Homo sapiens: one gene and its partners. The protein of the gene in region 1 purifies or fractionates together with the protein of each later gene. This does not show direct contact. Each region holds a gene or a part of one and is shown in the gene's direction. Other genes may lie near its edges.

Region 1 (4,077 bases):
GTAAATCAGAATATCAGGGCCAGGCGCGGTGGCTCACACCTATAATCCCAGCACTTTGGGAGGCCAAGGCAGGCAGATCACTTGAGCTCAGGAGTTTGAGACCAGCCTGGGCAACATGGTAAAACCTGGTATCTATAAAAAAAAAAAAGTAAAATAAATAAATAATATATTTATATATATTTATATAAAAATATTATATAAATAAATAATAAGAATACCAGGGACTTGGGTGGCCTTAGTTTCAAAATGTCCTCAGGTGTCTCTAGTGTGCCCTAGGATTGAGAGCCACTAATGTCAAGTGTGTATGTCCTTTTGTATTTTAGAGGTGGGATTGCAGATGTCTGGAATGTCTGTGAAAAGAGTCATGGGATCTGCTAACTAGTAGAAAGCCTCCTCTTGAAAAACTGGGAACTAAGAAAAGGAAAGAGACTTTATTCCCTTTGATACCTTTAGAACCATTTCTCAGATATCCACTTTATCTAAACAAGAAATGGTAATGATTGGTGTAAAAAACTTCCCACCAAAGAAAAATGCACTGTGAATTACCTTTCAGAGACAACTGAGACTCCATGTAAGTTCACATTTGCATGGGTACTTGAACCAAATTGCATTTAAGGTTTTCCAGCTGCAGGATCCCTCATGTAGGATCTATCTCTAACATTTCCTCCAAATTTAAGACCCGTGGTAGCCTGATTCTTGATTCTCACCCCCCCCCCTTTTTTTTTTGAGACGGAGTCTCGCCCTGTCACCAGGCTGGAGTGCAGTGGCATGATCACAGCTCACCGCAAGCTCTGCCTCCCAGGTTCAAGCGATTCTCCTGCCTTAGCCTCTCGAGTAGTTGGGACTACAGGCGCATGCCACCACACCTGGCTAATTTTTTTTGTATTTTTAGTATAGACGAGGTTTCGCCATGTTGGCCAGGATGGTCTCGATCTCTTGACATTGTGATCCACGTGCCTCGGCCTCCCAAAGTGCTGGGATTACAGGCATGAGCCACTGCTCCCGGCCTAATTCTCCTTTTGTTGGGCATAAGTGAGAGGAGGGGAGATGTCTTAAACGATTTCGAGAACTTGGTTGACAGGCCCTACCTTGTGGGAAGAGGGAATGGCCCGTCATGCTCTCAGATCCCATCTCTCCTCAAGTCATTTCAAGGAAATATGGACAGTGGTCAAATTAGTTTGCGAGCATTTCTTTTTTTTATTTTATTTTATTTTATTATTATTCTTTTTTGAGACGGAGTCTCGCTCTGTCGCCCAGGCTGGAGTGCAGTGGCACGATCTCCGCTCACTGCAAACTCCGCCTCCTGGGTTCGCGCCATTCTCCTGCCTCAGCCTCCCGAGTAGCTGGGACCACAGGGGCCCGCCACCACGCCTGGCTAATTTTTTGTGTTTTTAATATAGATGGGGTTTCACCATGTTAGCCAGGATGGTCTCGATCTCCTGACCTTGTGATCCGCCCGCCTCGGCCTCCCAAAGTGCTAGGATTACAGGCGTGAGCCACCGCGCCTGGCTGCGAACATTTCTTACAATTTTCATAGGCATATGAAATTTTACCATCACAACTATCAAAGTATAACAGCAGTGTGGAGATTTTCATCATTCAAGTGATAAGTTGTGACATGAAATTCTGCGAAATTTGCAGTTACAAAATCCAGCACCATCCCTTTAGACAAGTAGACTGCTCTGTTCCCTTTTTATGGAGAGCCTTGGTGACTTGCTCCAGATCGTACAGCTGTTCTGTTCTGTCGTTAAGTTTTGTCAGAGCATCAGAGGAACACTTCCATAACCTCAGCATTTCTTTGGCTGGTTGTTTTTGTAATTAGTACAGAGTTCAATTCTAGAGCCATGCTGGAATTGGTATTTTTTGGAGTCACAGCTTTGAGGGGAATCTATTTGTTTTTCTCCTAAAAGGTAATAATTACTAATGGAAGGTAAAACTTAGTGGTCTATTTATACCTCACTTACTTCCAAAAGTGATTTAAAGAAGGTTCGTGATCTAGCACATTAAGTTAGAGAAAGTAAAGGAAATTGAAAGCAAGGAAAGGAAGAGAAAGTGAGTTATTTTCTCCAGGTTTTTATTTCTCCATATTTGAATTCATCTCAAGCAGATAGTAAGCTGTCATTCTTACCAAAAAGGAAGAATGAGTGGTATCTCTAGAAAGACAGAAATTTTCCTGGCACCAGATTCTAAAGGTTTCTCCCTTGGAATATTTTACAAAGACATTAAATAGGAAGGTGGACAATAACTTTAATAGATGCTTTATAACAGTTGCATATGTAATTTTCATGAGGATGTTTCTTACAGTGACCTTCGATAAATGATTGCAGCTTCACTTTAACATGCAATGCGGGGATTCTATGTAGGACAAAGGTAATGCGTACCAGGAGCACTTCCCTGAGAAGAAGAAAAAGAGGAGTAGTCAGTTAGCTATACCCGAGGGGGCATTTGGATACCCACACCATTTATTGGCCATCCTTGGCCTAAGGTAATATCCAACAACTGTGGGTTTTTGCAGCAAACTGACTTAAGTATCAGAATAATGGGTAAATATTATGCCCTAAACCAGTGGTTCCCAAATATGGCTGATCTTCAGGACCAGGTAGGGAGCTACTTTGAAAATATGGGTCCCCCACCCCTTGAGGTCTGATCAGATGGTCTAGGGTAGGAAGTAAGAAATCTCAGTTCTTTCCAGGTAATTCTGAGAACCACACAGGCTTGGAACCACAGCTTTAGACTGCCTTCGTAAATGTCACTTCTCTTAGCTGAGTTTTCAATAAAAGCTATAGGGCTGGCCTTTTGTATACACTTAGATTATAAGGACTGTCTTTAGGCCAGATGGGATTTTTCCCCAGACAGGGACTTTGGTTCTATTCCAAAACTGACAAATGCTTATTTGACATCCTGGGAACTAGGGCCAAGTTCATTCAGATCTAGGAATCCCTTGAGCAGAATTTTAACCTCATTAAATTAGTTCCTTGTTTAATTCTCTGCATGCTTCATACTTATAACATTTTGATTCACTGTTAGTGTTGCCAGTCAGGTTGAGTCTTTGCTCTTTGTTCTATCAGTAGTTGGGAAGAGGGATCTAATTACAAGGTCTCTAATTGAATAATCCAGGAGGTCATTTGGAAAATAGAAAATTTCACGTTAATGAACGTTGATGAAGCATTTCTGAGCTGAGCATGGTGTATGCTGGGCATTCTGTAAGCATTATCTCAGTAGGTGCTTAGATAGACATTACAGACATGGAAAGTGAGTATTATTAAACATTTAGTCATTTCAGGGCCATTGTTGTTTTTTCCCAACACGTCCTATTCTTCAACTTTCTTTCTTCCTAAATTCTGTGGACTCCCCTCGCCAAAAAAAAAAAAAAAAAAGTTTTTGTCTTACCAATTTTTAACTAGCAACCTAACCAGGAAAATTTTGTTTATTTGGAACCTTGAACTACATTTTTCCTCCACATTGTATGTTAGGAGAAGGAAGGAAGTAAGAAAGTAAACTCATATGAAGGATTTTTGAAATATTACTCAGGTACAGCCTGGTCAGCTTAGCCTTGGTCCAGTTTAAACTATGAAAATAAAATTGTTCTTCATAATGGTTGGCCACCTTCATTAAATAAGAATTAAATGATGCAGGTATGGTAGCTCACACCTGTAATCCCAGAGCTTTGGGAGGCTGAGGCAGGAGGATCACTTGAAGCCAGGAGTGCGAGACCAGCCTGGGCAACATAGCGAGACCCCGTCCCTACAAAAATAAAATTATCCGGGTGTGGTGGCATACGCCTATGGCATGCGCCAGCTACTCAAGATGCTGAGGCAGAAGGATCACTTGAGCCCGGGGAATTCAAGGTTGCAGTGAAGTATGATCATACCATTGCACTCCAGCCTATGTAACAGAACAAGACCCTGTCTCAAAAACAAATTGTATTTATTACACCCCATCGTGAACAGGCACCAGATTGTAGATTAATGCAGATGTCTTGGATCCCTCTCTTCCAAGCCATATGACTGACTTGGGCAAGTGTGCTTTTCTAGGTCTCAGCTTCCGTCTTTGCAAAGTGGTGAAAATACTAGCCCC
Region 2 (4,077 bases), on another chromosome or scaffold:
ATGGGAGCTGACCTTAGGTGGTAAAGAGCAAATAGTTACTGTTTATTTTTCATTATATTTATTTTTAGGGGTTTTTTTCCTTTTAATTAGAAGGTGACATTGATTTTTTTAAAAAATATGGTAATGATATATAGTTATTTTCTTTAAAGTTTAAAAAAACATCAGTTTAAAGGCAAATTTAGCAAATCTTGATGATCATTCTCATGAACTGAAATTTGAGACATATAGCCCAAAATAAAAGTTTGTTGTCTGTTTCCTGTTTCTTTAGCAACGGGTAATGACTTGCTTCAGAGCATGGGAAGATTGGGCAATTTATCCAGAACCATTTTTGATCAAACTACAAAATATTTTCTTAGGACTTGTAAATATTATTGAAGAAAAGGAAACAGAGGTAGGCAGTCTGTATTTGTCTGGTTGTTTTTAAAATTCGTTTCTGGGGTGGAGGTTTCTTGGAGTTGTTCTGTGTTACATATGTGAGGTACATTTCTTTGTGAAAAATATCTATTGCTTACCATTAAGTAGTGGATTTTTATTGCTGGAACCCAGAAGTCAAAATTACATGTAACAGGAATTCTCTGTCTTGTGTCCTTATGTGAAAATTGGTGAGTGTTTTTTTTATTTAATGATATAAGAGTTATGATATATTGTTAATAGTAGAAAATAAGCAAGTAATAGAGCAATATGTATAGCATGACTTTATTTTGTTAAAGATAGCTATATAAGTAAAATATGTGCATGAAAAGATGCATCACATGATAGCAGATATACATCACCATTCTGTTGTTTTTTTTCTTTTTTACCTCCTAAATAATTACTGAATCCTTAATGTTTAATTCTGCCATGCTAGTCAAGCTATTATGTTTTCACTTTCACTCCTGCAGGATCTTCCTAATTGGCCTTACTGTTGCAACCCACGTGGTCCTTGTTTCAGTTTCTTAAATGTGTGTTTCCACCTACCATTGGACTTTGTACATGTCCTTCCCTCTTTCTGGGACTTATCTTCACCTGAGATCCTTCAGATCTCAGCTCAAACATAACCTTAGCCTTCTCTGACCTCTTTAAGTGAAACTTAGTATGCTAATAGTATGATACGCCCTTTTGCTGTAGCAGTTACCATAGTTACAGATAAGTATATATTGTTGTGATGATCTGATTTCCTGGTTCCCCCACCCCTGCAAAACAACAGCAAAAACCTTTACCAGGCTCTATAACAGGGGGACCAAACTTGTTTTTGCTCATCATTGCCTCACAAGGTACCTGGCACCAGTGAGCACTTGGTAAATATTAGATAAATGCACAACTGACTGCTTCTTTAGCAAACTGGATGATAGAATATGTTCTTACATTGTACCTCAGATTGTGGGTATCCAGTTATGTTGGCTTGTACTGGATTACAAATTAATCTTACAAGCAATGTGACTTCAGCAAGCAAAGGAAAATGTTATAATAGTACACATTTCCATAGGATGTTCCAGATGACCTTGATGGTGCCCCCATCGAGGAAGAGCTTGATGGTGCACCTCTGGAAGATGTAGATGGAATTCCTATTGATGCTACTCCCATCGATGATCTTGATGGAGTCCCTATAAAAAGTCTTGATGATGATCTTGATGGAGTGCCTTGTAAGTTCAGATTTCAAACTGATTAAATCTAGCTAATACATTTGGTGACCAAAACTCTAATTTCCATACATGCTGATATGGAAAAAGGTTATAGTTTCTCATGAACGTATCAAGTTATTAACTTTTCTATTTCTGATTTTTTTCAAAATTCATATACCCAGTAATACATTTATTTGTATGCTATGTATATAAAAGGCCAAGAAGAAGCATTTTTTTCTGGTCACATTTCTTTGCTGGGACAATCAGCCTCCTATAATATTAGCAAGTTTCTCTTTTTGTCTTGTCAGGAAATTATAGGCAAAATCTTGTGCTCAGTTATGCATGATCCTAGGTACCTGGTTTTATCAGTTTTTATTAGTTTTTCTAACTTACAACTTCAGTTTTCCTAGCTGCCTAAAATCATTTTGAAAATAGGAACTGTAGACAGCTCTTTGGTACATTTGAATTATATGTTTAAATATTGAATAATGTATGCAGTTTTATATTTCAGAGATTAGGTAAAGATATTAAAGATTTGTTTTACTTCTCAACTTCTTCACTTGCTTAATATATTACTAACCTGTATTTTCTGAATTGATATATATACTGTTAAAAATATTGCCCTCAGATGCAGAGAATTGGTTTAGTCATAGTCCTTGTTCTTAGTATTACTATTTGTCCATCTGTGTCCTTATTTTACTTTGCTTTTTAATAATATGGTGAATACCCATGAATGTAATACTTCGGGTCATCCACTAGTAGTCAGGGTTAATGGCTTATCTTTCCCTAATAGTGGATGCAACTGAAGACTCAAAAAAGAATGAGCCTATATTTAAAGTTGCCCCATCAAAATGGGAAGCTGTGGATGAATCTGAATTGGAAGCACAGGGTGAGTAAAAGTAAAATAAATATTTTTTAAATTAAGTACTTGTACGTTAATTATTGGTGTGCTTGTATATATGTTTTCCTTTTATGTTTTATAACACGTTTTAACCTTAATGCTCAATGTTGTCATATTTTGTGTCTAATGTATGCTTTTATTGTGGTTGGTGTTGCTGTTACAATTTTCTTAGGTCCTTCAGTTTGGAAGCTTTGAGAGTAATGAGATATCACTGAAAACCTTTCAGGTTAAGGCATTTTAGTAGCAAATGTAGATTGGAAGCTGTACCTACGTAGAAATCTACATAGAGGTCAGTTTCATAGAAACCAAGCTTTGACCCTCCCATAATGCTAGACTGATTAGATGCAATTTAGACCTGTCTTTCACACTTACTTAGACCTGTATCCTAGTGCTAATAATCTAATTGTTGCTATTTGTAGGTTCTAATGAAATAAATCTTAATATTCAACACAGAAATAAGGATGACATTATTCGTCACTTCATGAATTTGAATTATATTGTAGGTGTGAGGAAAGAGATTTGGCATATAGAAATAACTATTTAGAGAATTGATAAACATAGATTAAAAAAACTTCTGTAATATAAACTTTTCAATTCTAAAGCTTGAGCTTCCACTGTACTACTGAAAAAATGCTAGTTTACCTCGTGGAATTACATCCTCCTTTTCCTTTCATTCAGCTGTTACAACTTCTAAATGGGAATTATTTGACCAGCATGAAGAATCAGAAGAAGAAGAAAATCAAAAGTAAGAATCTAAGTTTTGAATATACTGTTTCTTGTTCATATACACTCCCCTTTTCATTAAGAGATATAGTTGAAATAATAGTGAAGTGGAAAACTTCACTCTTAAAAAATTTTGGGAGAGGATCATTTTTAGTTCTCCATTGGTTTTCCAGTGAATAAAGAGCTTTTGTTTTCTGGTCTTGATGGATCTGGTTTCATTTTGCTTTTGAGTTTTTTACGCTAGGTTATATTCTCACTTTGTAGTTACTAATTGGTCAACTGCATTTTTTTCAAACCTTTGCCATCAAATACTGTTTTGGGCTCCATAAAAAGTGGTTTTTAAAATGTGAATAGGAAAGGTTATACTCCTTTCTTTTGGATTGTACATTCTAAGAAAAAGATTGCATTATGGCCATTGTGTTATTTAAATATAAACCTTTCAGAAGAACTAAGAATGAATACAAAGGAAAAAATCTTTTCTTTTGAAATATAGAGAAATAATAATTTTGATTTTGCTGTTTGGTAATCACCCCAAAATTGTTTTTGTATTTGACACTGTGTGGTTGTAGGAATCTCTCCTCTCAGATTCTCCTGCAAGTCTGTATTGGCAGTTTTTAGGAAGTTCTTGACACTTTTTAAAATCATTGCAAAGGGAGTTGAATTTTTTTTTTTTTTTTTTTTTAAATGAGTAGGAAGAGATGGTATCACAAACACAAAGCACAGGTTACTGTCTTTAAAAATTTTGCGTTCTTCTATTCTCCAATGGAAGTGGGAACAAAGAGAAAACCCCTGTGTGTCCTAGCACAATATGGGCATTTGTGTGGATTTAATAAATGGGCATTTGGATTGTTG
Region 3 (4,077 bases), on another chromosome or scaffold:
CTCACTTTGGTCCAAAAGGAGGAGGAAATTTTAGGAAAATCATTATCTATAGAAATAAACAGACTTTGTGGCATTAAGTGACTTGAATGTAAAATGATTTGGTAAGTAGCAGCTGGTTGCATGCATATTTAAAATGAGCAGCTAACTTCTCTCTTCAAGATGTGTGCACCTCCAACTAAGTGCTGAATGATGAGGCTGGATGTTTAAGCAGGACCACGTTGCAAATTGTCTTATGGGCTATGCTAGAGTTCTCACTTATACTTAAAGCTTTGGGGAACCGCTGAAAGTTTTTTTTTTTTTTTTTTTTTGAGACGGAGTCTCGCTCTGTCGCCCAGGCCGGACTGCGGACTGCAGTGGCGCAATCTCGGCTCACTGCAAGCTCCGCTTCCCGGGTTCACGCCATTCTCCTGCCTCAGCCTCCCGAGTAGCTGGGACTACAGGCGCCCACCACCGCGCCCGGCTAATTTTTTGTATTTTTAGTAGAGACGGGGTTTCACCTTGTTAGCCAGGATGGTCTCGATCTCCTGACCTCATGATCCACCTGCCTCGGCCTCCCAAAGTGCTGGGATTACAGGCGTGAGCCACCACGCCTGGCCCCGCTGAAAGTTTTTAAGTGAAATGATGGCAAAGATCAGTGCCAGTAGAGCAGAGAAAGTTTTGGAGCATCCAGGAGAGAGAGAGAAGGGCAGAGAGATGGGTAAGGCTATTGGGCACGGGTAGTATGGAAGCATAAGCTGAGTGACGTCAGTGTGTAGGAGAATTGAGAGGTAATGAGTAATTCAAGTGATAGTGAATAATTGAGTAATTCAGAATTATTAGTGAATAATTCTCAAGTCAAAGAATTGAGAGATAATGAATAAAGGTATATGTGTATATACCCATGTACATATAAATAAATAATTTAAGGAACTCAGAGTACAGGAACTAAAGGGAAAAACAATGAAATGTCTTCCAGATTCTAGCCTCATCTACTGAATAAGTGAAGATAGCTTTTTTTTTTTGCTTTTTTTTTTTTTAAAAGACAGGGTCTTGCACTGTCGCCCAAGCCGAAGTGCAGTGGTGCAATCATAATTCACTGCAGCCTTATACTCCCAGGCAGGAGCGATCCTCCCACCTCAGCCTCCTGAGTAGTAGAGACTACAGGTGCACACCACCACACCTGGCTAATTTTTAAATTTTTTGTAGAGATAGAGTTTCGCCATGTTGCCCAAGCTGGTCTCGAACTCCTGGGCTCAAGCGATTCTCCCATCTTGGCCTCCCAAAGTTCTAGGATTAAGGGTGTGAGCCACTGTGCCTGGCCGATACCATTCTAATTAAGAAGGAAAACAAGGGAGGAGGAACAGGTTTAGGGTTGACAAGTTCAGTTGGGGACCTGTCGAGTTTGAGGTGTGTGTGGTACATCCTGGATAAGAGTTCATTAGCATGTAGCCATGAGTCAGAATGACCTTAAGGAGATTGTACAGCATGAGATGAGGGCCAAAAAGACAAAATCATAGGGAATGTCAAAATCAAGGTAGAAGATGAAGAGAGCAAAAAAGAGACCAAGAGAGGTCAGAGAGATGGGAGGAAAAGATAGACTCCCTGCTTCCTTCTGGAAAGTGGCAAGTGCTTAGAGAGAGATTGTGTAGTCTTGGTGATATGGTTTGGCTGTGTCCCCACCCAAATCTCATCTTGAATTGTAGCTCCCATAATTCCCACATGTCGTCGGAGGGACTTGGTGGGAGGTAATTGAATCATGGGGACAGGTCTTTCACATGCTGTTCTTGTGATCATAAGTCTCATGAGATCTGATGGATTTATAAAGGAGAGTTTCCTTGCACACGCCCTCTTTACCTGTCACCATGTAAGATATAACTTTGCTCCTCCTTCACCTTCCGCCATGATTGTGAAGCCTCCCCAGCCATGTAGAACTGTGAGTCAATTAAACCTCTTTTATAAATTACCCAATTTCAGGTATATCTTTATTGGCAGCGTGAGAATAGATTAATACACTTGGACAGGTTACTTGAGCTTCTCTGAACCTTTGTTTCCTCATCTGCAAAAAGGGAGTAATGATAGTACCTACCCATGGGGTGTCGTGAGGATTAAATTAATAAATATGTGTAAAGTACTTAAAACAGTCCTGGCACATAGTAAATGCTATATACATGTTTCATATTATTATTCTTTTTATTATCAAGAAATAAGGAACATCCATGGGAATTAGTATCCAACCGGTCATTAGTGACCTATGCTAGGGGCATTTCAGTGGAGTGGTGGGGGTAGAAGCCAGACTACAGTTGGTTAGAGAATGAATATGATACAAGAAAAGCAAACAGATAATTCAACTTATTAAAAGATTGCCTGTGAAGAAAAGGAAAGAGCAACATCAGTATCTGGCAAGGTGTGTGGTAGTGGTGATGGTGAGGGGTGTTGTGTGTCTTTGGGTCATGGGGAAAACTTAAGCATGGTTAAAATTGCTGAGAGGAGTGAGTAGAAGGGGAAGGGTCAAAGAGAAGCAGGAAGAATAGTTGATGGCTCAAGGTCCCATGGAAGGTAGGATGATTCAGATCCCAGGTGGAGGGATTAACTTAAGTGAAGAAGGACCCATCTTACACAAGCATGAAAATGAAGGAGATGAAGATAGGTAGTGATGCACATGAGTGTGTAAATGGGGACAGATATTTGAGGGATTTCCTGTCTGCTGGCCTGTTTTCTCTGGGAAACAGGGTAAATGGTTTGCTGAGCGCCAGTAGACAAGTGGGGCTTTAGGAGAGCAGTGAAGGTTTGATTTAATTGCTGTGAAGAATGGGTGAGAGCCAACAGAGACTTGTGGAAGATGGTTGCAGGGGGTGCTATGGGTCCAGCTGACATATATTGGCAATGGATGACACAATCAAATGACCTCTTCCAGTAGTACTGTAGCTGACAGGTGAGCACAGAGCACGGGGCTGTTGGGGTTTTGCTTTGTGGGGTGACCATTAGTTTTGTGGCGAAGGAGTAGCAGAAGGATAGAATCTGATACATCAGGTCCGGAGGTTTTGATGAAGCTGCCAAATGGGTCTCTGGGGAGAAGGAAGTAAAAGTACTATAAGGGAGAAAGTTGTAGTTGGATAAGAGAATAATCAAGTTTAAGATTTAAGAGGCAGAAAGTTTTTTCTGATAATGCCAAGGTCCACAGACTGAACAGGACTGCAGGCATGTGGCTAAAGGGGAATAGAGGCAAAGGCATTGGTGTCTAGGAGCTGCAGGACTAGGTGGACAGTGAGTGGTAGAAGTGGAGGGAACCTAGATGGTGCCAGGAGGAAGACTGTGTGAGAAGTGCTGTTTCTTTTTCTTTTTCTTTCTTTCTTTCTTTTTTTTTTTTGAGACGGAGTTTCACTCTTGTTGCCCCTGTTGGAGTGCAGTGGTGCAATCTCGGCTCACTGCAACCTCCACCTCCCAGGTTCAAGCGATTCTCCTGCCTCAGCCTCCAGAGTAGCTGAGATTACAGGCATGCACCACCACACCCAGCTAATTTTTGTATTTTTTTTAGTAGAGATGGGGTTTCACCACGTTGGTCAGGCTGGTCTCAAACTCCTGACCTCAGGTAATCTACCCGCCTCAGCCTCCCAAAGTGTTGGGATTACAGGTGTGAGCCACCACTCCCGCCCCAGGAGTGCCATTTCTGAGGGAATATGTTACATTGACCAGGGAGTGATCAGTGAGGGGCCGAGAGAGATGTGGGTTGGTGGCCCAGGCTCAGCAGCCTACATCTCTTCATGGGGTCTTTAGGCTAACATAGGATGATGGAGTATCTGTGTATTTCGCCATAGACAGATTTTAGTAGTTGCAACAGAGACTGTATGGCTTACAAAATCTAAAATATTTACCTGTAAAGGTAAAGAAATGAAACAAAACCGTTAGATTATTATAAAACAGAGTGACAGCTTAAATTTGTCAGTGTATAAGAATTTTGTGTATACTTGAAAAACACTGGCCTGGCAACTTAGTAGAAGATAAATTTGAGTTGTAGTGTTTCTGTAGTTGAGAATGAGTGAATGGAAACCTGTAGAAGCAAAGCAGTTAGGAGAAAATCATCTAGAGAAATGTTAGCCT
Region 4 (4,077 bases), on another chromosome or scaffold:
GAATGTGCAATACTGTTTTTGTCCATTGAAATGTCTTAAAACTGTTTTGCTCTGGGAGGCCGATGCAGAAGGATTGCTTAAAGCCAAGAGTTGGCCGGGCGTGGTGGCTCACACCTGTAATCCCAGCACTTTGGGTGGCCGAGGCAGGCAGATCACCTGAGGTTGGGAGTTCAAGACCAGCCTGACCAACATGGAGAAACCCCATCTCTACTAAAAATACAGAATTAGCCGGGCATGGTGGTGCATGCCTGTAATCCCAGCTACTTGGGAGGCTGAGGCAGGAGAATCGCTTGAACCCAGGAGGCAGAGATTGCAGTGAGCTAAGATTGCGCCATTGCACTCCAGCCTGGGCAACAAGAGTGAAATTCCATCTCAAGGAAAAAAAAAAAAAAGCAGCCAGGAATTTGAGACCAGCCTGGGCAACATAGCAAGACCTCATCTCTGCAAAAAATTTAAAAAATTAACCGGGTGTAGTGGCACGCACCTGTAGTCCTTGCTATTCAGGAGGCTGAGGCGGGACGATTCCTGGAGCCCACAAGTTCGAGGTTACAGTGAGCCATGATTGTGCCACTACATACCAGCCTGTCCCTATAAAAATAAAATAAAATAAAAGTGTTCTGAGACAGATTTATCTACCAAATGTTTTGCTTAATACTTGGATGAATTCAAGAGAAAAAGATATATTTTATTCATATTTAAATAAAACTATAACAGCTAATACTGTTTTTCTGATTTGAAAAATTGTTTATAATATTACTATAAGATGAGATTAACAATCTTTGTAAAAATCAGATTATGTTTTGGGCTTAAAAAAAACCCTAGTGTTTTCTACTATTAGTGTACTCAAATGATTTGTGAGTGATAGTACTCAAATGAGAATTGCATTTAATTTGTACATAGTTAAATCGTCTTGTTTTGAAGCACAAAGTCAGGATGTTTCTCATCAGAATTTTCTGTTTGAATAGGGAAAAGTGGCATTGGTCATGAGGCATCATTAAAACGGAAAGCAGAGGAAAAATTGGAAAGCTACAGAAAAAAGATTCACATGAAAAACCAAGCTGAAGAAAAAGCTGCAGAACAGTTTCGGTAAAACTATTTTTGAGCTGGTTTTGGTTCTATTTCCTCTTTATTGTGGTATGTTCTCTGGTACTTGGGCATATAAAATGGTTAAAGATAACGTAGACCTTTAGTTTACAATTTTTTCTTTCAATTAGAATGCGACTTAAAAATAAGCAAGATGAAATGAAGCTAGAAGGAGATCTCAGAAGAAGCCAGCGAGCCTGTCAACAACTGGATGTCCAGAAAGTAAGCCTTTTACCAGCTTTCAGTTTAGTAAAGTGTTTTGGCACCCCCTGTGATTTCCCGTTTATTTATTATATATATATATATTTTATATATGTATTATATATATTTATATATGTATTATATGTTTATATATGTATTACATATATTTATATGTATCATATATATTTATATATTTTTTACATATGTCTTATATATTATATATATTTTATGTATTTATATATATAATATATATATTATATATATATATAAAACTAAGAACTCCAAGCCCGGTTTATCTACTCATTAAAGCTTTCATGTAATGTGCACTTCTGATCTGTGACAATTGATATAAAAATGGCTTATTATTTACTATAGTAACCTGAGTTGTCTGGGTTACTATAAAACCCAGGGTTTTATAGTAACTATAGTTTTATAGTTTTATACTAACTATAGTAAAACAAAAAGGGTTAAATAAAATTTTACATTTAATTGTTCTCTGCTTATTTGAATATCAGTTATGACTATTATGTGCAGAAATTCTGTTCTTTATAATATTTGATTAACAAGAATAGCCTATTTTCAGTTCCTATTCAGTATCTAATATATGTCTAACTATTAAAATCAGAGTGGGCCAGGCATGATGGCTCAATCCTGTAATCCTAGCACTTTGGGAGGCAAAGGCAGGATGATTATTTCAGCCCAGGAGTTCGAGACCAGCCTGGATAACATTTCAAGACTCCATCTCTACAAAACATCTTAAAATTAGCTGCATGTGGTGGCACACACCTGTAGTCCTATCTACTCAGGAGGCTGAAGTGGGAGAATCACTTGAGCCCAGAAGGTTGAGGTTGCATTGAGCTATGTTCATGCCACTGCACTCCAGCCTGGGTGACAGAGTGAGACCCTGTCTCAAAAATAAAATCAAGGTGGAATGCTATCTAGTTCAAATTTGAATAGTTTTTAAAAAATTCTGTCTCTGGCTGGGCATGGTGGCTCATGTCTGTAATCTCAGCACTTTGAGAGGACGAGGCTGCAGGATTGCTTGAGTCCAGGAGTTTGTGACCAGCCTGGACAACATAGCAAGTCCCCAGCTCTACAAAAAAAATAAATAAGTAAATAAATTCTGTCTTTGCTTTTATCTTAGTGGTTCAAGTACTCTGAAAATAAAATGACTTCATTTGAAGTCTCAAAAAGCTTTGTAAAATTTCCCTTATATATAGATTACTGGAAGCAATCTCTCACTTTCCTGTTCTTACATATTACTTTACTTTGAATGTATTTCATGGCACTTATGATTTTGTAGCATATATGTATTATTTTGTACCCATAGCCTATCTTTCCTGCTAGACTGTCAGAAGGAACTTAAAGACAACTGCACAATTCTAAAGAATTGGACTTTGCATCCCCATAGTTCATGGTACAATGTTTTCACTTTTTTTTTGAGATGGAGTCTCACTCTGTCACCAGGCTAGAGTACAGTGGCGTGATTTTGGCTCACTGCAACCTCCACCTCCTGGGTTCAAGCAATTCTCCTGCCTCGGCCTCCTGAGTAGCTGGGACGACAGGCATGCACTACCACGCCCAGCTAATTTTTGTATTTTTAGTAGAGATGGGGTTTCACCATGTTGGTCAGGATGATCTTGATCTCTTGACCTCGTGATCCACCCACCTCTCCCTCCCAAAGTGCTGGGATTGCAGGCGTGAGCCACCGTGCCCGGCCAGTGTTTTTACTCTTAAAGCCACACTCAGTGAATACGTATTGAAAGAATGAATTCATGTTGACATGAACATATTTGTCATGCTCTTATGTTTAGTATGTTTAATTGAGACTACTTCTGCATTTTCAGAATATTCAGGTTCCCAGGGAAGCATGGTACTGGTTGAGGCTTGAAGAGGAGACTGAAGAAGATGAAGAAGAAAAAGAACAGGATGAAGATGAATATAAGAGTGAAGATTTAAGCGTATGCTTTGCACCATTTCCTTCATAGGGTGTCTCAGCCTTGGCAACATTAGCACTTTGAGTTGTGGTAATCCGTTGTTGTGGAGAGCTGTCCTGTGCATTGCAAGATGTTTAGCAGCATCTCTGGCCCCTGCCCACCAGATACCAGTTGCACTTTTGCTTATGACAACCAAAACCCTCTCCAGACATTGCTAAATGTCCCCGAGGGGAAAAATAACCCCTGGTTGAGAGGTACTGCATTGCAGGATTACTTTACTAACCCCAAATCAAAACTTACATATAATTTTTCCCTTTAGCTTCCATTTGTCCTCTCATCTCAGCTTCAGTTTGGATGATGAATTAGCAACAAATGTAAATTATTTTAATTTATACCTTATTTCCTGCAAAACTTCTACAAGTCATTCTAATGTGTACTTTTTTCTCCTACTTATAAACAACAAAAAAACACAATCAAAAGAAAATGGAGGCCGGGCATGGTGGCTCACACCTGTAATCCAAACACTTTGGGAGACCAAAACTGGTGGATCACTTGAGGTCAGGAGTTTAAGACCAGCCTGGCCAACATGGTAGTGTATTTTAGTCTCTACTAAAAATACAAAAATTAGCCAGGTGTGGGGCACCCAATAATCCTAGCTACTCAGGAGGCTGAGGTAGGAGGATCACGTGAGCCCGGGAGGCAGAGGTTGCGGTGAGCCAAGATCACGCCACTGCACTCCAGCCTAGGTGATAGACCGAGACCCTGTCTCACAAAAAAAAAAAAAAAAGGAAATGGAGATTATTCAAGAAAGGAAAACACACTCGTATGCTTACTTGAGTATAATAATTTTGTGGAA
Region 5 (4,077 bases), on another chromosome or scaffold:
AAACAGCTTTAAGAGGCAAATGTGGTTCATCCAGTTTTGAAACTGTCTGAGGCTCCTAAAGCCCAAGATGCAAGGCTCCCTAATGACAGTTTTTGCACTGCTAAATTACAGGACTGATGACTTCAGTAAGTAGTAAAAATAATGTGTATACCTATAGGCAACTGGCAGAATTTTTTGAGCCACAGTTTAGTCCTTGGTACTTTGTTTTTTGTTGTTGTTGTTCTTTTTTGGGATGGAGTCTCACTGTCGCCCAGGCTGGAGTGCGGTGGCACCATCTCGGATCACTGCAACCTCTGCCTCCAGGGTTCAAGCGATTCTCCTGCCTCAGCCTCCTGAGTAGCTGGGATTACAGGTGCCCGCCACCACGCCCAGCTATTTTTTTTTTTTTTTTTTTTTTTTTTTTTTTTTTGAGAGGGAGTCTCGTTCTGTCGCCCAGGCTGGATGGAGTGCAGTGGTGTGATCTCGGCTCACTGCAAGCTCCATCTCCCCAGGGTTCACGCCATTCTCCCGCCTCAGCCTCCTGAGTATCTGGGATTACAGGCGCTCACCACCATGCTCAGCTAATTTTTTGTATTTTTAGTAGAGATGGGGTTTCACTGTGTTAGCCAGGATGGTCTTGATCACCACCTCTGCCTCCCAAAGTGCTGGGATTACAGGCGTGAGCCACCGCGCCCAGCCACGCCCAGCTAATTTTTGTATTTTTAGTAGAGACAGGTTTTTGCCATGTTGGCCAGGCTGGTCTCGAACTCTTGACTTCAAGTGATCCGCTCATCTCAGCCTCCCAAGTGCTAGATGTACTTTGTTTTAGATTGGTTTAGCATTTGCTCTTTTGGTAATACTGGAAACCTTCACATCTTAGAGGAAAGAGAGATATTCCTTTCTTGAGGTTTCATATCTGCAAACACAATAAGGAATTAATTGCCTTTTATTTTTTAATAGAAAACTACTTCTTTGAATGGGGTGGATGGTAGGGAGAGATTTTTAATTGCATTACACGTTTTTTTCCTTCACATTCTCCTTCAGGATGCTTCTCAGCTGCTTCAGATATTACAGAGTCTCCATCCTCCTTTGAAAATTGATGGCAAAACTATTGGGGTTGATTTTGCAAAAAGTGCCAGAAAGTGAGTGGCTTCATTGTCCTTATTTCAAACTACTGCATATGCACATTTGTACAGTGTGCTAACTGAACGCCAAGCCTGTGCCCCAAGTATGTTGAGACACTGTGATCCTCCCTGATTGCCAAGGCCAGGAGGGACACGTTTGTCTTCTTTTAGTGATTATTCCCTACTGTCCTGTGTAACCAGTTGATGAAGTTGCCTGAAATGGTTTCAGATCAGGAGAAAGGCAAGTATGGCAGATGGGTTGAGAACACATGCTTTGCAAACTGCAGCAGTATAGTGCTAACCCATCCAGAAATAACCCATTCCTTCCAGAACAGCGTGCTAATAATTTCATGTATATAGTGCTTAACTCTAACACGGTAAATTTCCCTTTTTTTAGTATCATTGCACATTCAAAAAACTCTTCGTTAGATGGCAGGTTACAAGGTAGAACAATGATACTACAGGGCCACTTGCTTACTGAGGAATTTCCCCATGAAGAGCCCTCCCCCTGTGAAATGTGGCCTTGCTGGCATTTGAGAACTGACAAAGGGTGGAGTGAATCAGTTGGTGGTATAGGGGCACTAATTGTGGGAATACTGTGATAGAATCACATGATTGGATCTTTGTGGTTTCAGAGACTTGGTCCTCTCAGATGGTAACCGCGTCAGCGCTTTCTCTGTAGCTAGTACGGCTATTGCTGCTGCTCAGTGGTCATCCACCCAGGTAAGATCGAGGATCTTTTTGCTCAAGGTAGTGTGGTGGTGGTGCCCAGATTCACAGACGTGACCTCTCCTGTGGTACTCGCAGTATGAGCTCTTTTCTTTTCTTTTTTTTTTTTTTTTTTTTTTTTTTTTTTTGAGACAGAGTATCACTCTCGTCACCCGGGCTGGAGTGCAATGGTGCAATCTTGGCTCACTGCAAGCTCCACCTTCCAGGTTCAAGTGGTTCTTCTGTCTCAGCCTCTTGAGTAGCTGGGATTACAGGTACCTGCCACCACGCCTGGCTAATTTTTGTATTTTAGTAGAGATGGGATTTCACCACGTTGGCCAGGCTGGTCTTGAACTCCTGACCTCAGGTGATCCACCCACGTCAGCCTCCCAAAGTGCTGGGATTACAGCCGTGAGCCACAGCGCCCAGCATCATGAGCTCATTTTTAGGGACTTCTGAATTTTTTTCCTTAATGCCTACTAAGTTTGTCTTTGTCTCATTTTGATGTTTTGTAGTCTCAAAGTGGTGAAGGAGGCAGTGTTGACTACAGTTATCTGCAACCAGGTCAAGATGGCTATGCCCAATATGCTCAGGTAGGTAGATTTTAGCAGCATCCACCTTATAGTCTTGCAGAGTGTGTCTGAGAATAGCAGCTTTAATGGTGGACTTTTCTTCAGTATTCACAGGATTATCAGCAGTTTTATCAACAACAAGCTGGAGGATTGGAATCTGATGCATCATCTGCATCAGGTAGTAAACTTCATCTCCCTTTTACCTTTTGTTTAAGCACTTACAGTTGAAGAAATATGATTAAATGTCCTAACTGGACCAAAAGCTACAAGTCCATTTCTCTGTAAGATTGTAGGGGGCATGGCCGGGCACGGTGGCTCACGCCTGTAATCCCAGCACTTTGGGAGGCCAAGGCAGGTGGATCACGAGGTCAGGAGTTCAAGACCAGCCTGGCCAACATGGTGAAACCCCATCTCAGCTAAAACTACAGAAATTAGCCAGGTGCGGTGGCAGGCGCCTGTAATCCCAGCTACTCAGGAGGCTGAGGCAGGAGAATTGCTTGAACCCGAGCGGCAGAGATTGCAGTGAGCTGAGATTGCGCCACTGCACTCCAGCCTGGGCGACAGAGTGAGATTCTGTCTCAGAAAGAAAAAAAAAAGAATGTAGGGGGCATATTCAGGGCTGTCATCATGTACCCAAGGTTCTGGGGAAGAATACGGTTATTTGTGTACACCAGGAGTTAATACAAGGTCTTAGAGACCATGTTGTGATGAGTTTAATTCTTGGAATTCAACTCTGTATTTCCCCTCTCTGTGTTTGGAGTCGTGAGTGCCCACGTAAGTTCAGGTGAGCAGAGAGGATGTGGCCCTGGAGACTGGTGCTCAGACATCAATCAGAAGAGCTACTCTAAGAAGCCTTGGCTTTAATTTTTGTTTCAGGCTTTAAAAAGCCTTGTGAGTTAAATCTTTCTCAACCCCAGAGCAAATATAGATCCTTTCTTCTCTTCCTTTTCTCTTCTTTTTTTTTTGAGACGGAGTCTCGCTCTGTTGCCCAGGCTGGAGTGCGGTGGCGTTATCTCGGTTCACTGTGAGCTCTGCCTCCCAGGTTCACGCCATTCTCCTGCCTTAGCCTCACAAGTAGCTGGAACTACAGGTGCCTGCCACCACTCCCGGCTAATTTTTTGTATTTTTAGTAGAGACGGGGTTTCACCGTGTTAGCCAGGATGGTCTCAATCTCCTGACCTCGTGATCGGCTCGCCTTTTCCTTCCAAAGTGCTGGGATTACAGGCCTGAGCCACTGCACCCGGCCTCTTCTCTTTTTCTTAGCCATGATACAGAATCCTTAACTTTGTATATCACATCTAGTAGAATTATAAGAAAATGAAAATGTCACAGATTCCAGGGTACTTAGTGGAAGTTAGCTTATGAAGAACTGACATATACAATGACAGAAGAAGGCTAGATTGGGCATTACAAATAAAGATGTTTGGGTTGGCGTTCAGTGCCTTGGCTTTCCCTAACACTTGTGTTTATCATCAGGCACAGCAGTGACCACCACCTCAGCGGCTGTAGTGTCCCAGAGTCCTCAGCTGTATAATCAAACCTCCAATCCACCTGGCTCTCCGGTAATCCTGTTGTCCTATATACAAAACTCGTGGCTGATGGGGAAATTTTGTTTTGCTATACAAGTATTACCCTTTCCTGTTGTATGAGCCAGGATTGAGTAATACACACTTCAACCTTATTTCTTTCTGTTG
Region 6 (4,615 bases), on another chromosome or scaffold:
AGTTCCTATCAACTACTTCTAAAACGTATCTCAATTCCAGTTCCTTCTCTACATGTCCACTTTCACCAAACTATTATGGTAGTGTTTTTCTCCAGACTTCTACAGTAGTCCAACTGGTCTTTCTGCTTCTGTTTTTTGCATTGCAACCGGAGAAATTTTCATACCTAAACTTTGATTCTCTCCCCTCAACACACACCTACTTAAAGAATTTGTCAGTTTCTAAATGTTCCTCAAATAAAAAGGGCTCCTAACAAATCTACAGCGTCTACGTGGTCTGGCTCTACCTATCTGATATTTTGGTGGGTGTGTGGGGAAGGTTCTTCTCATGTTTGTCTTCTAGTTTTCATTAATATCTGTCTCTCTCCTTTTCCCCAACCAATGCGGGATGACAGCAGATTGCTGGTATACTGCTTACTGCTGTATCTCTAACATTTATTTAAGTGGCAAAAAGAACTGTAAGAGGAACTCTGGTTCTCCAGACTGTAGCAGCTACATCTAGCATAAAACCTCTCTTTAGAATCCTCAAGGCCCTCTCTGTATGGGGTGAGGGGTACATTCCTGACCCTCCGGGGATGATCCCTGCCTCACTCCATTCAGAATCTAGGCAGAACAGTGGATTAGAATGTAGACCCCCAGTCAGAACACCAAGGGTCAAAACTTAGTTCTTCCACTTTCTAGCTGTGTGATTTAACCTCTTTGTACATCAGTGTCCTCAGCTGTAAAATAGGGAGAAAAGTACCTACACCTACACACACACACACATACACACACACACACACACACACCCCTACACACACACACATACACACACATGCAATAATTTATTTATTAGGTTACCTCTCCCTAGAGGCTGCCATTTCTGCGAAATGAACCCTGGCAGGGGCCTATCCGTCTGCTAAATGCCTACTGATTCAAGAAAAAAGTCTGAACTCTCAACGTTTTGCCCCTTAAACTGAGTTCTCCTCCCTACAATGGTGTCTAATGAGTTGACAGAATAACTGGCTAGCTTTATATTTTACCATCTAAATACTGTAAGAACATACCCGGTATTTCCACACCCAAGTTCTCCTCCTTGCTATTCAGGCCAATTCACTTTCCCAAGGCCAGGGATTAAGAGCCGCACGGTCAGCTCCAGATAGCGCTCGCCGCCGTGCGCCCCGCCCCGCCGTGCGCCCCGCCCCGCCGTGCGCCCCGCCCCGCCGTGCGCCCCGCCCCGCCGTGCGCCCCGCCCCGCCGTGCGCCCCGCCCCGCCGTGCGCCCCGCCCCGCCGTGCGCCCCGCCCCGCCGTGCGCCCCGCCCCGCCGTGCGCCCCGCCCCGCCCTGTGACGGTCCCAGCCCGCACATGCGCAGTCGTGAGTCCTCTTGTCCTTGAGCGTCAACCTTCTTTCCCTGAAGTGGCTGGGGTTCCTGTTTCCTTCTTTGATTGACAACTTGTGTTAACCCTCGCACATCTCTGGGCCAATTTTTGCTTGTAAGTCTTTCCGGAGACCCCTGGAATTTAAATCATTAGCACCGCGCCCTTCCCCGAAGAGTCTTCGAAGGGTTGCCGCTTTTCGGTGGCGCAGTTCTCGCGAGAAGGTGACTTTCTTTCTCGGTATTTCCTGGTTTCCAGAATCCTTAGCGCGAGGCGGAAAAAATATTTCTCCCAGCTTGTGTTGATGCCGCGATTTTGACTGAGACTTCTTCCCACGATTTCTGTTTTTGCTTCTCCAAGGAAAATGGCAGCTCCCGAGCAGCCGCTTGCGATATCAAGGGGATGCACGAGCTCCTCCTCGCTTTCCCCGCCTCGGGGCGACCGAACCCTTCTGGTCAGGCACCTGCCGGCTGAGCTTACTGCTGAGGAGAAAGAGGACTTGCTGAAGTACTTCGGGGCTCAGTCTGTGCGGGTCCTGTCAGATAAGGGGCGACTGGTAAGGGCGCGCCCCTCCGGAGTCTCCCGGGAAGGCATTTGGGAAGTGACCGGGGAGGGGGAGCGCTGACAAGAGTAAAATGGAAACGAGTGGGGAAGATGGACTTGTGTGATGAGAGCTCCCCCATCCTACCTCTTTTTTATCAAAATATCTGCTCTGCGAAGTGGAGTTTTAATCGGCTCGAGTCTGGATTAGTCATAGCACTGCAGAAAAGGGCAAGTGAGAACGACAAAGCAGAAGAATGGAAATTAGCTTAGTTATATTGAGTTTTCGGATCCATCCTGAGAGCCTCACAACTTTTTTGAATTTGGGGTTATTTCTCCTGGACTCAAGAGTATTCTTACAAATGTGCATCAAGGGATTTTTTAAAGTCCTACTTCATTTATAAGCCAATGTTAAATCGTTCATTAAAATAGAGGAGAAGCTACATTGGTGACTTGCGTAAATTAAATGCAGAATTTCAACTAGAAAAAGAGGCTTTTCATAAAAATTTCCCGATGACATCTTTTAGGGAACAATTTTTTAGGGCTGTTAAGAGTACCTGTGTAGGAATTTACACAATTACTTTGTTTTGCTTTATATCCAAAGATATTTTAGATTTCTCTTCATTAAAATAGGAATAGCGATGGTGCAAGACTCAGTGGTTTTAAAGTTTCCCTAGGTGATTTTAATGTTAATGTGCAGCCCAAGTTGAGAGTTACTGAATTAGAAGAAAGACCAATTTTGATCAGTTTAAATGTCACTTATGCCTGCAAATTAAAAAAAAAAAATTATATATGGCTCAATTTAAGTACATCAGGTCATCGTGTATCAGATTAGACAAAATTAGAATGTGCGATATAATTATTAAAGTAACTTTTAATAAGCATTGACCAGAGCTCTTCCTTAGCATAGTGATTCTTTTACTGTTGATTTGTGTTTCTTTTCTGATGGTTTTTAAAATCCGTATAATTTATGTTTAAAAATAGACTTCTCCCATTGAACATTATTACAAAGATAAAGCACAAAGGAAATATGCACCTTGAAGAACGATTTCTCTGTTGGTGAATGTTTTTAAACTACGCATTGTTATGTATAGAGGAAAGTTTAAAATCTTTAGATCTGTCATAAATGAAGGAAATAAATTTTTAGTTGGTTAAAAGTGACCCTCTGTGTAGAACAGGTCTTTAAACTTTTGGTCTTTTGAACTATTTGCATGTGTAAAACGTGTGTCTTTATATGATAGAGGTTGCATAGCTTTCATCTCAAGTCTGACTCAAAAAGTATTGAAAACCACTGGACTGAAATTAGTAATCAGTTAAATGGTCTTGAGTTTTCATCCTTTCCCGTGATTTTATTAACATGTCACATTACTCCACTGGTAAAAAGTCAGATTTCTTTGTGAGAAACTGAAATTATATTGGAAGTAATTTGTACCTTAACTCTGTTTCAGAAACATACAGCTTTTGCCACATTCCCTAATGAAAAAGCAGCTATAAAGGTATGACTTTTTCTTGACGATTAAAGTTGTCAACAGGATCCTCTTATACAATCTTGGTTCAGATAATGTTTAACTGTGGTTTTTAAGAAGCAAAAGCGTTTGTATTCCAACAGTTTCCCCAACAGACTACATTTGATTTGTCAGTTGGCAGATCTTGCCCAGTCCTTTAGTAGATTATCTATAAAGAAAAACTAACTGCGTATGTAATTAAAATAACAATTTCTAAATGATTTAGATTGATAAATATCTCTGTGACTGTTACAAGGTAAGATGTTTCAAGTGTTAAAAGGAGAATATACATTTCTTTATAATGCCAGGGAATCATTCACAGGAGGTGATCTTTTAGCTAGAAGTCTAATGATTAATTGGATTTTTTCAGAAGGAAACAAGTGGAGATGGGCCTTCTGGGCTTGCAGAACACCAAATAAAGCTGTGAGACATTGGAAGTTATAAGTGGAGCAGGAGCTAAGGGTTGAGATGGAAATGGAACTTGAAAAATAGATTTGAGTCTGGGAGAGAGGTATTGAGTTTGGTTTAGTAGGTGGACACTTGATACTTTTGAGCTGGCTCATAATATGATCAGGCCTGTTAAAGATATCTGGTATAGTTCATATCATGGATTGGATGTGCAGAATTATTAGAGGTAGGAGACCAAATGGAAGGCTGTTATAATGGCCAAGGCAAGAATAACTATCTGAAGAAGACAGTAAGAAGACAAAGGGGGAAGTAAATATATATTCAATAGAGATTGAGTTTGTAGGTTTTATAATATAGGGGTTGAGAGAGAATAGTTCAGGATATTTAGATTGAGGATTGAGTTATTTGGGTTGTTATATTAGCTGACATGAGGATCCAGAGGATGTTTGCAAAGGCATAGGATGAATTCACTTGTCATCTGTTAACTTGGAGGGGTCATTGGGCTACTTTTATGGAAATATTTAAAAATATTAATGAGAGCTGAGGCAAGGTGAAGAATGGAAAGATTCTTCAACCATGTGAATAGATATGTTTGCCCAAAGGATAATAAGCTAGGAGAGAAGAATGGGAAGGAGCAGTTAAAGTAGGAGAACTAGAAAGGAAATTATCACTGATGCAAAGAGAAGTGTGTTTTAAGAAGATGAAATCCTGTGATGATGCAAAATGAGGAATGAACACATCTATTAAAGTCTTTTTGCCATGAAACAATAGAAATGACCCAAATTCTCATCGGTAAAAGGAAGGGAAG
Region 7 (4,077 bases), on another chromosome or scaffold:
TGATACCCTGAGTTGGGGAAGTGGCAGTGGGGATGGAGGATGTTGAGGGATTTTCAGAAATATTTAGGAGTTAAATTGGCAGGACTAGGTGATTGATTGGACGTGGGTGATGAGGGAGAAGTAGTTTCTTGCTTGAGCAAGGGGGACCTTTCACTGAAATAGAAAAGTACAAAAGGAATAGATTTGAGGGTTGGGAGATGATGAATATAATTAATTTATTTTTGTTTGTGTTGAACTTTTAGTGTCTTTAATATACGGTACTGGAGAGAAACAAGGTTTAAAGATCTAAATTTTGGGAGTCCTCACTGTATAGTGAGAGTTGTAGCTTTGAGATCTTTCAGTAAGCATATATTAAACAGCAAAAGGTCAGTGGTTATATTAATACTTACATGAAAACCAACATCTAAAGGGGGACAAATAGAGCAAGGAAGACAGATATTTAGGATATTTAGAGGAGACCAAGTAGAAGAAGCCAGAGAGGTAGAAAGAACATGAGGGGTGTGTCAGAATCACAGATGGACAATTGGAGTGTGACCTTCCAAGAGTTCAGATAAAACAAGACAGTGACATGTTTTTGGCTTTAGTAACAAGGTTATTAGTGACCTATTGACTGGTTTCAGTGGGGTGATGGTGGCAATGAGTGAGGAATCGTTATAGGTGAGGTGAGGTTGTTTAGACAGTGAGTGTAAATACACCTTTCAAAGAGTTAGGCTTTGAAGGAGTGGAGAGAGGACAGGGGCATTTAGGGAGTTAGGGGTTGAAGGAGTTTTATTTTTCTTTAATACACAACTACATGGGGGTTGAGAGAGGCCTGTAGAAGAGGATGCACTATACAGTACTGGTACATAATTAAATGGTAAACATTTAATGGTAATTATTTATTTAAATATTATGTACCTATTTTCTTTGTTTCTGTTTGATTTTTATAGGATGAAGTTGTGATATGTCCATACGATTCCAATCATCACATGCCTAAATCATCTTTGGCAAAGCACATGGCATCTTGTAGATTGAGGAAAATGGGCTATACCAAAGAAGAAGAGGTACCATATATTTACTATATTATATATACATATATGTCATGCATTTTACACATTAATTCACAATTTTTGGAAGTTACAATGTGAGGTTCACTGACAAAATAATAGCCCTTACTTGAAGGGTTGGTTGGTACTTGCCTAATTGCACAAATTATTGTGAGAAATAATTAAGTGATACTAATCTATTGTTTAGGTCAAGTCTTAAAATAGTCAATTATCTGATACTTAAGAACAGTAAGATTCTTTTTTTTCAGGATGAAATGTATAATCCTGAGTTTTTCTATGAAAATGTGAAGATACCTTCGATTACTTTGAGTAAGTATTAAGTTATTATAATTTAAAAATATCTTAGTGTAGATATTGATTTTTCATTTTTGCATTATGAAAAGAATGGATTGTATAAGCATGCTTATGACAAGGACATTTAGTACCTTAAGAGAATGTAGAATTAATTAATGTACAAGGCAACTAATTCACATAATCTGAAGTTTAGAGACCAGGCTTGTATTAATAGGCAGTGAAAACCTTACAAAGCTTTGTATAGTAGAGCAGACACCTTCTTTCTCAGTTACAACAAAAATTTGAGCATGTGACACAGATTGAAGGATGAGACTGAAGATGGACATGTGTTCCAGGGATTGACAGCATATATAGAGGTTAAAGTCTTGGGCTCTGGAAAAAGAATGTCCTGATTCAACTCCTGTTTTTATCATGAAAGATGTGACTTTCAGCGAGGTAATTAACCTGTTTGTTGCCTAAATTTCTTTATAAAATGGAGATGGTTATAATAGCACTTTGCGAAGATTAAGTGATATATATATATAATATTCTTAGAATAGTGTCAGGCACTTAGCTGGAGTCAGCTAGAGGGTCACAGAGTTGTGACCATTACAGCACAGGCTTCAAGAATGTTAGCTATTATTGGTCAGTAAAATTTGTCGCTGCTACTGCTGCGTGCCTAATTATAGGCATGAACTGCTTGAAGTCTGATTACTTACTGGGCTGTAGATAAATCTGAAAGGATTCTGTGTTCAGATTTCATAGACAGGGATGTGGATGTTTCTTAAGATTCTGGAAGGTTTGTCCACGTGCCCAAAGGGCTTGGATCAGAAACCAGTTAATAATTTAATTGTGGTCACTGATGATTCATATTGTATTTATGGATTTTTTTTTTTTTGACAGATAAGGACTCACAATTCCAGATAATTAAACAAGCTAGAACTGCAGTTGGGAAAGACAGTGATTGTTATAATCAAAGTAAGTGGCATTACAGTTTAAGTGAATTAAAGAATGAAATTATTATTTTTCTCATAAGCATGTTACTAATTTTCTTCAAGAAAAACCTGTGAAAACTGTTACATGGGAAAGGTAAAGTTTTACATTTAACATTGGGCTAATTTGCTTCGTTTCAACTTCATTTGTTAGATATTTCCTGTTGAGATACACCAGAGTCTCACTAAGACACTATCTTAGCTAGGGGTTCATCCTTTGGAATTACCTGGCGATTTATAGGTGAGATTGTCTTGTGGCTAATTAAAAAAATTATTATTTAGTAAATACAGATGGTCCCAACTTAATGATGATTTAATTTAGGATTTTTTCAATTTTATGGTGTTGTGAAAACAATACACAATCACAAGGTTTTAGACTTTAAGTACTAGTGATTCTTTTATCAGACGCTGGGCTGCATTTTCAACTTAACGGTATTTTCAGTTTATGATGGGTTTATCGGGATGTAACCCCATGTAAGTCAAGGAACATCTATAAATGCCACTGAGTGAGGCTCTTTTACTCTTGAGATTTCCTCTCTTTAGAGTGTTGAAATGCAGTGTAAAGAAAAGGCTTAGGCTAAAAGAGATTAGTCTCCACAGCTACCCTCAGATTGCTTGCTACCCAGTAAGTGAGTTGGTTTGAGGTGATGAATGCTTGGGATCCCCTTCTCAGAAAAAAAGTACAAACACAAAAGTTTTACATATAATTTCAGAGGATTCATATTAATAGATCCTTTCATGCCCAGCTTTAGAGCTGGGTTAAAGAGTTTCTCCCTGGGAACCTCAGCAGAGAGTAGGTTAGAAGTTTTAAGCATAAGCTTTTAGGAAATTGAAAGAAAACTTCATCCATCAAAAACATAGACATAGGCCAGACACGGTGGCTCATGCCTGTCATCCCAGCACTTTGGGAGGCCGAGGCAGGTGGATCATCTGAGGTCAGAAGTTCAAGACCACCCTGGCCAACATGGCGAAACCCTGTCTTTACTAAAAAATGCAAAAATTAGCCGGGCATGGTGGCAAGCACCTGTAATCCCAGCTACTCAGGAGACCGAGGCAGGAAGAATTGCTTGAACCCAGGAGGCGGAGGTTTCATTGAGCCAAGATTGCACCATTGCACTCCAGCCTGGGCAACAGAGCGAGACTCCATCTCAAAAAAAAAAACACACATAGACAAACGAGTTAATAAAAGTTTAAATTTCTAATGAATGTAGATATGACATCTAGCCAAAACCTGAACAGCTTCTCTTGTAAGGATTTCTGCATTGTCTTCTTTGAACCTTCTGTAGGTAGCTTTCTCTGGACAACTTACCTTTTTTTCCTCATTCTTTTTTCTAGCTGAATTATATTTACCAGGCTGTAGTCATGGTTGGTTTTCTCCCTCATTGAAATTGAGGATCTTTACCAAATACTGTTCTAAGCCAGTATCTGGACTTGATTTCTCAGAGTTGCTCTATGGCTTCAGAAGAAAGACCATCTTATCCTTAGTTGTCTATATTACATGGGTTCTCTACAACAGCCAGAAGCACATTTCTTGTATTTTTTGTTTTGAGGTTCCCACTTTTGTCCCTGTCAGGGAAATTCCAGGTTTTTTTCTTTGAGGGAGACAGTTGACTCTCATTTTATTTATTCGGAGAGATTACTGAGCTATGACTAGTCAAGCCTTTTTTGGCCTCTGCTATTGGTTCTGCTCATATCCCCTGGTAGTGTACCCATAAAAAAGTTGAGGTTTTTGGTTTTTGAAAGGGTTAATAATACTTAAAGGACTT

The links.
Region 2: the proteins of ZRSR2 (region 1) and U2SURP purify together in Homo sapiens (affinity purification with mass spectrometry; 3 studies listed by BioGRID and IntAct, with this or other methods). This does not show direct contact.
Region 3: the proteins of ZRSR2 (region 1) and PDCD7 purify together in Homo sapiens (affinity purification with mass spectrometry; 3 studies listed by BioGRID and IntAct, with this or other methods). This does not show direct contact.
Region 4: the proteins of ZRSR2 (region 1) and GPATCH11 purify together in Homo sapiens (affinity purification with mass spectrometry; 3 studies listed by BioGRID and IntAct, with this or other methods). This does not show direct contact.
Region 5: the proteins of ZRSR2 (region 1) and RBM5 purify together in Homo sapiens (affinity purification with mass spectrometry; 3 studies listed by BioGRID and IntAct, with this or other methods). This does not show direct contact.
Region 6: the proteins of ZRSR2 (region 1) and RNPC3 purify together in Homo sapiens (affinity purification with mass spectrometry; 3 studies listed by BioGRID and IntAct, with this or other methods). This does not show direct contact.
Region 7: the proteins of ZRSR2 (region 1) and SNRNP48 purify together in Homo sapiens (affinity purification with mass spectrometry; 3 studies listed by BioGRID and IntAct, with this or other methods). This does not show direct contact.

Annotation. Positions count from the first base shown.
Region 1 is NC_000023.11:15,810,718-15,814,794, forward strand, and holds part of ZRSR2 (U2 small nuclear ribonucleoprotein auxiliary factor 35 kDa subunit-related protein 2), read left to right. Parts: intron 1-4,077. UniProt on the Homo sapiens protein: Pre-mRNA-binding protein required for splicing of both U2- and U12-type introns. Selectively interacts with the 3'-splice site of U2- and U12-type pre-mRNAs and promotes different steps in U2 and U12 intron splicing.
Region 2 is NC_000003.12:143,035,714-143,039,790, forward strand, and holds part of U2SURP (U2 snRNP-associated SURP motif-containing protein), read left to right. Parts: intron 1-268; coding exon 269-391; intron 392-1,465; coding exon 1,466-1,622; intron 1,623-2,394; coding exon 2,395-2,490; intron 2,491-3,180; coding exon 3,181-3,247; intron 3,248-4,077.
Region 3 is NC_000015.10:65,123,695-65,127,771, reverse strand, and holds part of PDCD7 (programmed cell death protein 7), read left to right. Parts: intron 1-4,077. UniProt on the Homo sapiens protein: Promotes apoptosis when overexpressed.
Region 4 is NC_000002.12:37,090,951-37,095,027, forward strand, and holds part of GPATCH11 (G patch domain-containing protein 11), read left to right. Parts: intron 1-965; coding exon 966-1,086; intron 1,087-1,190; coding exon of another isoform or gene 1,191-1,214; coding exon 1,215-1,305; intron 1,306-3,131; coding exon 3,132-3,245; intron 3,246-3,701; exon of another isoform or gene 3,702-3,810; intron 3,811-4,077.
Region 5 is NC_000003.12:50,105,744-50,109,820, forward strand, and holds part of RBM5 (RNA-binding protein 5), read left to right. Parts: intron 1-1,023; coding exon 1,024-1,121; intron 1,122-1,738; coding exon 1,739-1,826; intron 1,827-2,326; coding exon 2,327-2,404; intron 2,405-2,488; coding exon 2,489-2,561; intron 2,562-3,859; coding exon 3,860-3,945; intron 3,946-4,077. UniProt on the Homo sapiens protein: Component of the spliceosome A complex. Binds to ssRNA containing the consensus sequence 5'-AGGUAA-3'. Regulates alternative splicing of a number of mRNAs.
Region 6 is NC_000001.11:103,524,353-103,528,967, forward strand, and holds the start of RNPC3 (RNA-binding region-containing protein 3), read left to right. Parts: upstream 1-1,346; 5' UTR 1,347-1,718; coding exon 1,719-1,910; intron 1,911-3,342; coding exon 3,343-3,390; intron 3,391-4,615. UniProt on the Homo sapiens protein: Participates in pre-mRNA U12-dependent splicing, performed by the minor spliceosome which removes U12-type introns. U12-type introns comprises less than 1% of all non-coding sequences. Binds to the 3'-stem-loop of m(7)G-capped U12 snRNA.
Region 7 is NC_000006.12:7,592,805-7,596,881, forward strand, and holds part of SNRNP48 (U11/U12 small nuclear ribonucleoprotein 48 kDa protein), read left to right. Parts: intron 1-929; coding exon 930-1,043; intron 1,044-1,294; coding exon 1,295-1,355; intron 1,356-2,222; coding exon 2,223-2,297; intron 2,298-4,077. UniProt on the Homo sapiens protein: Likely involved in U12-type 5' splice site recognition.